Linked DNA regions of Homo sapiens. The protein of the gene in region 1 purifies or fractionates together with the protein of each later gene. This does not show direct contact. Each region holds a gene or a part of one and is shown on either strand. Other genes may lie near its edges. The genes, in order: TMEM106B and VAMP7.

Evidence for each region.
Region 2: the proteins of TMEM106B (region 1) and VAMP7 purify together in Homo sapiens (affinity purification with mass spectrometry; one large-scale study listed by BioGRID and IntAct). This does not show direct contact.

Annotation. Positions count from the first base shown.
Region 1 is NC_000007.14:12,214,265-12,218,088, reverse strand, and holds part of TMEM106B (transmembrane protein 106B), read right to left. Parts: exon of another isoform or gene 3,695-3,824; intron 3,281-3,694; 5' UTR 3,279-3,280; coding exon 3,062-3,278; intron 1-3,061. UniProt on the Homo sapiens protein: In neurons, involved in the transport of late endosomes/lysosomes. May be involved in dendrite morphogenesis and maintenance by regulating lysosomal trafficking.
Region 2 is NC_000023.11:155,884,106-155,887,929, reverse strand, and holds part of VAMP7 (vesicle-associated membrane protein 7), read right to left. Parts: intron 1-3,824. UniProt on the Homo sapiens protein: Involved in the targeting and/or fusion of transport vesicles to their target membrane during transport of proteins from the early endosome to the lysosome. Required for heterotypic fusion of late endosomes with lysosomes and homotypic lysosomal fusion.

The DNA.
Region 1 (3,824 bases):
TTGGTATCGCCCTTTCCTGAAACCTCTATCATCTCTATCACTGCAGAGCTTCTGACATTGTCCCCCTTGAAAACCAAAACCGGCCTCTGAAGTAGAAGTCTCAAGCTTTAAGAGCCCCCTACATAATGAGCCTTCCAGGGCCCTTTCAGGTCTCACCCCAATCCATGTTAAAGTCACTTCAAAATCCGTGATTTCTTTCTTGGGTTGAGCTATATCCATAAGTTTAAAGGATAAATGGACCTTTAAATGCCAATTTTATAATCTTATTAGAAGTTGGCTTATCATATTAACTATTAAGGTATCAGATAGTCAAGTTCTCTTTAAAAGCTTTCTAAAATGCTTCTGTTATTTCCCCCGACACATCTATACTCTTCCTCTCATCTGTGCTCCCCCATCACACCCATATATAATTATACAAATACATATAACATGGATATCTGTATCTTTGTGTGTTTACATATCTCACCTTGTTTAGTGGTATTCATCTGGCTAAAACTACAACCCTGGTTAAAACCAACCCTCTGGCTCCTATGCATATATCAACAGAGCTAAACATGGACACAGAAAAACACACAACTACACTCACTGGTTTCATTTTTGATCACTCATGTCAAGTAGCACTTAATGATGTCAACAATCATACTACATTTCCCAAGTTCATACTCTCAAGCTGACTCTCCAAGACCACAATTTTATAACTTCAACTCTCTTCAAATCTTTAATATCTTCTTCGCTATCCTCATTCTTAGTTCATTATGTGATAAATGGAAGATAATTTCTACAAGCTTCTATTATCAGATCTATCCACCTACCTGCTTCTGTGTCCATACTTTACCTTCTCTTTTATTACCAAGAATAAACCACCTGTGCTTATAACTTACCTTTTATAGAAAAAAAGAGCAGCTCTTTGTTCTTGTGCAGTAGATCTGCCCTTCTGTCTATTCAAGAACATTGCTCCAATAATTCTCTTATCTCCCGAATTACCAATGTTTTCTCTACAGATAATTCTCATCAGTATACAACTGTCTATTATTCACTCTATCTTACAAAGAAAAAAAAAAATCCCTCTCCTGACCTCACAGCCCCTTCTAATGACTACCTCTCTTCTCTCTGCTATGGAGCCAAACCCCTCAGAAAATCTATTTTCTCTCTATGTAACATCTCCTATGCACTCTTGAGCCCACTCTATACATGCTACACGTCTTTACCAAAACCGCTCTTTTAAACTCTTCTGTGGCCTCCATATAACCAAATCCAATGGCCAGTTCTCAGTCTTCACACTACCCAATCTATCAGTAGCATATGACAGTTGGTCACTCTTTCCTCCTTGGTACACTTTCTTCACTTATCTTCCATGATACCACACACAATGATTTCCTCCTCTCATTCTAACTTTTCTTTCTCAGGGTCCTTTGTTAATTCTTTCACTGACCTTGATATGCTACAGTGTCTCAGGATTCGCTAGGGTCTCATTTTTGCCATCTGCACTGACTAGCTTGCTGCTGTCATCCAGCTGAGCTTTAAGTGTCATCTATACATTGGTAACTTGAGGCTGGGCGCTGCAATTGAATTCCTGACCCTTATGATAACTAACTGCCTAATGAACATATCCACTTCCACGTCAAATAGGCATCTCCAAATATCCATGTCTAAACTTGAGCTCCTGAACTCTCCTGTGACATATACACTCAAATAATCTTTTTTTTTTCAATTTTAATAAATTGCTACTACATTCTTTCAGTTGCTCAAACAAACCCCCCCAAAAAAACTCTGGAGTCATCCTTGATTTCCTACTTTCCATAATCTGTATCCAGGCGGCCAAAAAAGTTTACTGGTCATACCTCAAAAATGTAACCAGACTGCTAAAACAGTACTCCCCTACCCCCTGAGCCTGGTGCATTAATCCCTTCAACTACAATAATTATTTTATTCTTAAATAGCTACTATCCTTGTGAAAATAAAACCATCATACTCAAAGGCCAACGCAAATGTAAACTTCAATTCAAACCCACAGCATTTTAAGATACATTTTAAGCATCTTAAAAAGGTACACAAAGTATACTTTATACTTTGACCTTCTTCCCTCTGGGTATCTCCAGGGTCACACATCAACTTTCACCAAGAAGATAATGAGAACAGCATAAAGTATCTTTATTATTTCTACTTATTGCCACTGTTCCTAAAGTAGCTTACAAGCAGCACACAGGGGATTATTTCCTTCTGACGTCCCCTATGATATATCACAAACAATTTTTTTTTTTCAATTTGGCTCATTTTCACGTACCATCCCTCTTCACAGAGTTTCTTTAACTCATTAGGGCACAGCCAGCTTATTCTTCTTCTTTAGATAATGAATTAAAAATATTAGGTTGGCCAGGCGTGGTGGCTCACAGCTGTAATTCTAACACTTTGGGAGGCCAAGGCTGGATGATCGCTTGAGCCCAAGAATTCGACATCATCCTGGGAAACATGGGGAAACTCCATCCTTATTATTAAAAAAATAAAATTTTAAAAATAACATGAAAGAATAAGCTTCCTTACACATTAACTCTGGCTGGGCATGGTGGCTTACTGCTATAATCCTAGCACTCTGGGAAGCCGAGGTGGGAGGATTGCTTGAGGACAGGAGTTCAAGACCAGCCTGGCCAACAATTGCGAGATCTCATCTCTTAAAAAAAAAAAAAAAATAGGTCAACAAATTACTTAAATTGCTTCTAACATCTGATATAGCAAAGTAGCAAGTAACTATGATGTCATCTCTACAGATGCCAAATAGGACTAAAAGTTTTCATTTACAAGACAGTGAATATCTGCTATAATAGCAGGTGGGAATGAAAAAATACTGGAGGTAGTGAGGTGGTTTTCTTTACTGCTTTAGGAACCTTAATTAATACTTTATTTGTTTCTTTTGCATCTTTTTGACTGAAGGTAACTGATATGATGTTTCAACTTTAATTCTAAGAGTCCTCTAAAACAGGTGGTTCCTGAGACCCACAGTTTTTATAATACTTGAGCAAATACCTAAAATCATTTAAAGGGAAAACAATACAATAACACATACCCCTAGGAATTCTTCCTGTTCCCTGACAAGTAGGGCAGGTGACACTATCTCTTCCTGTAAATTCCACATATGGAAACTGAGAGACATCTCCATTTCTTCCATCTTCATTATGGACTTCACTATTAACCAGTCCATTCCTCATGTTTTCAGATGTGACTCCATCATAAGCATCTTCTTTGCTTGAATGCAAAGGCAAATGAGAAAGAGACTTTCCCATGTCTAAAGAAAAATAAAAATCTTACAGTAAACTTCAGGGAAAAAAGTACATTCAAGAACACTCTGAGATATTTACACTAATTAATTTAGAACAGTCAAGGAACAGTCAAACTCTGTAAAATATTTGAAGGGATTTATTCGGAGCCAAAAATGAGTGAACAAGGCCTGAGGCACAGTCTCAACAGGTCCTGAGAAAATGTCCTCAAGGTAGTTGGGTTACAGCTTGATTATACATTTTGGAGACAGAAATTACAGGCAGAGGCATAAATCAATAGATGTAAGGTATACATTAATTCAGCCCAGAAAAGCAGGACATTTTGAAGCAGGGGTGGAAGGCTGGGGGGTGTCCAGGTCATAGGTGCATAGGTGGATTTAAAGATTTCCTAATGGCAATTGGTTGAAACGGTTAAACTCTACCTGAGGAGTTGAAGTCAGCAGAAAGAAATGTTTGTAGTTAAGACAAGGGAGGAGGATGTGGAAGCCAAGGTTCTGATTATCTAGATGATGCCTCCAGGTAGCAGGCTTCAGAGAGAATAGTTTGTAAATG
Region 2 (3,824 bases), on another chromosome or scaffold:
GTCTTGCTCTGTCACCCAAGCTCCAGGCTAGAGTGCAGTGGCACAATCTTGGCTCACTACAGCCTCCACTTATCAGGCTCAAGTGATCCTCCTACCTCAGCCTCTGGAGTATCTGGGACTACAGGTGTGTGCCACCATGTCCGGCTATTTTTGTATTTTTTTTTGTACAGACAGGGTTTCACCATGTCACCCAGGCTGGTCTTGAACTCCCGGGCTCAAGTGATCCACCTGCCTTGGCCTCCCAAAGTGCTGGGATTACAGGCATGAGCCACCGTACCTGGCCCTGTTCTGTTTCTTCAAAGCATCGTTACGCATTATCTCTGCTCCTCTGCCTCCTTTCAACTCTTCTACTTACTATAATCCAGCTTTTGCCCTTAAAACTCCAGAAAACCATGCTTCCTAAGGTCACCAACAGCCTCTATATTGCAAAATACAGTGGTTGCTTCTCTATTCTTACCTTACTTGACCTCTTAGGCACAGTCAACACTGCTGACCGACCCTCCTTCTTGAAATGCTCCTACATCTCTGGCTGCTCTTTTTGTCTTCTTGCTGACTCTTCCTCCTCTACCTGACCTCTAAATGTCGACTTTCCTCCGGGACTGATTCTGTGCCCTTTTATTCCCAGATGAGCTCAGTTAGATCTGCCATTTTAAACATGATTTATTTGCTGAAGATATATTGCATACAGAAAAAAAAAATAGTGCCAAAGATAAAACCCAAAGCACAACCAACAGTTGAGGGAAAGGTAGATAAATAGAGACTCACAAAGACTGAGGAGGACCAAATGGGAAAGCCAAAAGTGTGGTGGCCCAGAAGCCGAAAGGAAAGAAAGAGAATGAAGACTGTAAAACAATCAGTGAAATTTTATAACAAGGAAGGAGGTCATTGCTTAGGGTCAAAGAGACACAGTAGAGAGGAACAAAAACACAAAGAGAAACAGAGATAAGAAATCATATGGTCCCTGGAACAGAGAGATGAAAAAGTAGCAGCAGCCTCAGTCCCTGTGCAGGTTCAGAAGGAAACTTGACCTTGGCAACAATTAATACAAAAAGATCTAGTGTTTCAGTGGACTGTAAGTTCATTATGAACCAACGGTATGCGATATTGCTTAAAAATGCTTACATAATCTCAAAGTACATTAAGAAATAGGGTGTCTTGACCTGTTTAAGTACTAGTCCCATTACACTCTGTGCTGGTTAGAACATATGTAAAATACTGAATTCAATTCTGGGTAGAATATTTAACGACTAGACAAAAGGGAGGCAATACAATATGGGTGAGAGACATGGAGATTGTGTCATCTGAAGACTGGCTGGAGGAACTAGAGATATGTAACATGAGAAAGAGAGGACTTAGAGGGAACATGACAATAGTTTTTGAGTTTATATAAAGTACAGTCACCTGGAACAGGGAGCACATTATTCAGAATATAACTAGGAACAATGAATATAAGTTATACGCAAGTAGTGTTTCTTCCAATAAAAGCAGTCCCCAACTTAAAAATGACTGTTAAACAGTGGGTACATAGCAACAGAAACTTTACTTTCCTTCCAGATGTCACTAATAGGAATTCCTTCCTCTCTGCTATACTGCTAAAAATCCCACCTATGAAGTCTTACCTGCCCCCATTGTAAGTGTCTTGTAATAGAATCCATAACGTCTTGATGAGTATTGGGATAACAGAAACAATTGTGGCACAATGAACACTGCACTTGAAGTTAGAAAACCTGGCTCTGCTAATTATTAGCAGTATGTAAATGCCTAATAAACCATAAAGTGCTATATAAAGATAAGATCCAAGAAGAAAAAGAATGAAAAGATAAGCCAGAGAGAGAAGGGAAGAAAAAAAGATAATGCAACATAAAGGAAAGCCCCATATCAACACTGTTCCTCTTTGTTCTCCTATTCACTCCCCACTTGGTCCCACAGCCACCATCCCAATTCTACTTTATTCCTGCTAAGAATCCTGTATTAGTTTCTTGTAGCTGCAGTAATAAAGTACCAAAAACTTGGTTGCTTAAAACAACAGAAATGTATCGCCTACCAGTTCTGAGGGTTAAAAGTCCAAAATCAAGATGTTGGCAGGGTTATGCTCCCTCTGAAACCTGTAGAAGAGAATCTTTCCTTATCTCTTTCTAGCTTCTGATAGTTTGGTGGCAATCCTTGGTGTTCCTTGGCTTGGAGGTGCAGCACTTCAATCTTTACCTCTGTAGTCACATGGTGTTCTCTGTATCTGTGTCTTCACACTGCATTCTCTCTGTCTCTCTTCTTTTATATGGATGCCAGTCATATTGGATAAAGGGCCCACTCTACTCCAGTATGACCCCATTTTCAATTACATCTTAATTACATCTGCAAAGATCCTATTTCTAAATAAGATCCCATTCACAGGTACCACGGGTTAGGACTTCAACACAGCTTTCTGGAGGACACAATTCAACCCACAACAAACCCCCATTTTAAACTGATACTACACCTGATCTTAGCCAAAAGGCTGACAAGCAATGCAAACTTCCATTTTAGAAACTCACTGTTCATCCCAAATAAATCCTACCCTTCCCTTTCCAGATACTCATATCACCCAACTTGCCTCCCTCTCTAAAACCTCTGTCCCTTCGTTTTCCTTGCTCATATTGGAGGACTGTCCTTAGAGCTAAGGGCTAGAAGGGTCACCCACAACAGTTTGGAGTTAGAAAAGCCTGTTTTTACTATGTTAAGGGACTAAAGAAAGGATATTTTTGTTCTAGTTGTTGGGTTTCTAAAAAAAGATATGCTATAAGGGAATTCAAATGAGAATTATAAATGCAGTTTTTTAATAGAGGAATTATTGTAAATTGTGGGGAAGGTCTTCGAGTCCACTAAATTAAAAGTTAATAAAATGATACTGGTTGGCATAACAGTGTAAATGTCATGGATAGCATTATTTATAGAAGGAAATGCATCCAGCGTTCCAAACAATAAGCTTACAACAGTACTTTTAGAATATATCCATTTGTAAGTAAGAAATTGCCTGTATTAAAAAATTTGGTAATAACATAGAACAGCAATGATGAAAATGCTCCTCCTCAGCAGAAGCATCTTCAAGTAGAGGCTGAAGACAGTTTCAGGTAACTGAGTAAGGGGAAAGGCCAAGTCCATGTGTTTTGAGAAATCTTTTAATTCTGCATTTGTATTTTGATAACACTGAAAAATGTATAAGAATATTCTGGATCATCTACATGTGTATCTTATAAACGAGCAATGGCACACAATTCAGTGCTGCACTTGCATTCCTGTCTATAAAGAAATAGGTGTCAATAAATCACCTAAAATAACAATGCTTAATGTTTACATCTTAGAAGTATCTGGCTGATCTTAGGTTGGCACATCCTAAATTCACGACAGTCATGACTCAAGCACTCTTGTACTGCTGTTGTTTTTAATCAGTTATAAAGACAAAATTTGTCTTTTGCAGTAATGATTTACAATTGAAAGATACCTGCATGGAATAAGACTTTAATTTTGGCTGGGCGCAGTGGTTCATGCCTGTAATCCCAGCACTTTGGGAGGCTGAGGCGGGCGGATCACCCAAGGTCAGGAGTTCGAGACCAGCCTGACCAACATGGAGAAACCCCGTTTCTACTAAAAATACAAAATTAGCCAGGCGTGGTGGCGCACGCCTGTAATTCCAGCTACTTGGGAGGCTGAGGCAGGAGAATCGCTTGAACCCGGGAAGTGGAGGCTGAGGTGAGCCAAGATCATGCCATTGCACTCCAGCCTGGGTAACAAGAGCAAAACTCTGTCTCAAAAGAAAAAAAAAAGTTTAATTTTAATACTTGAGGCTT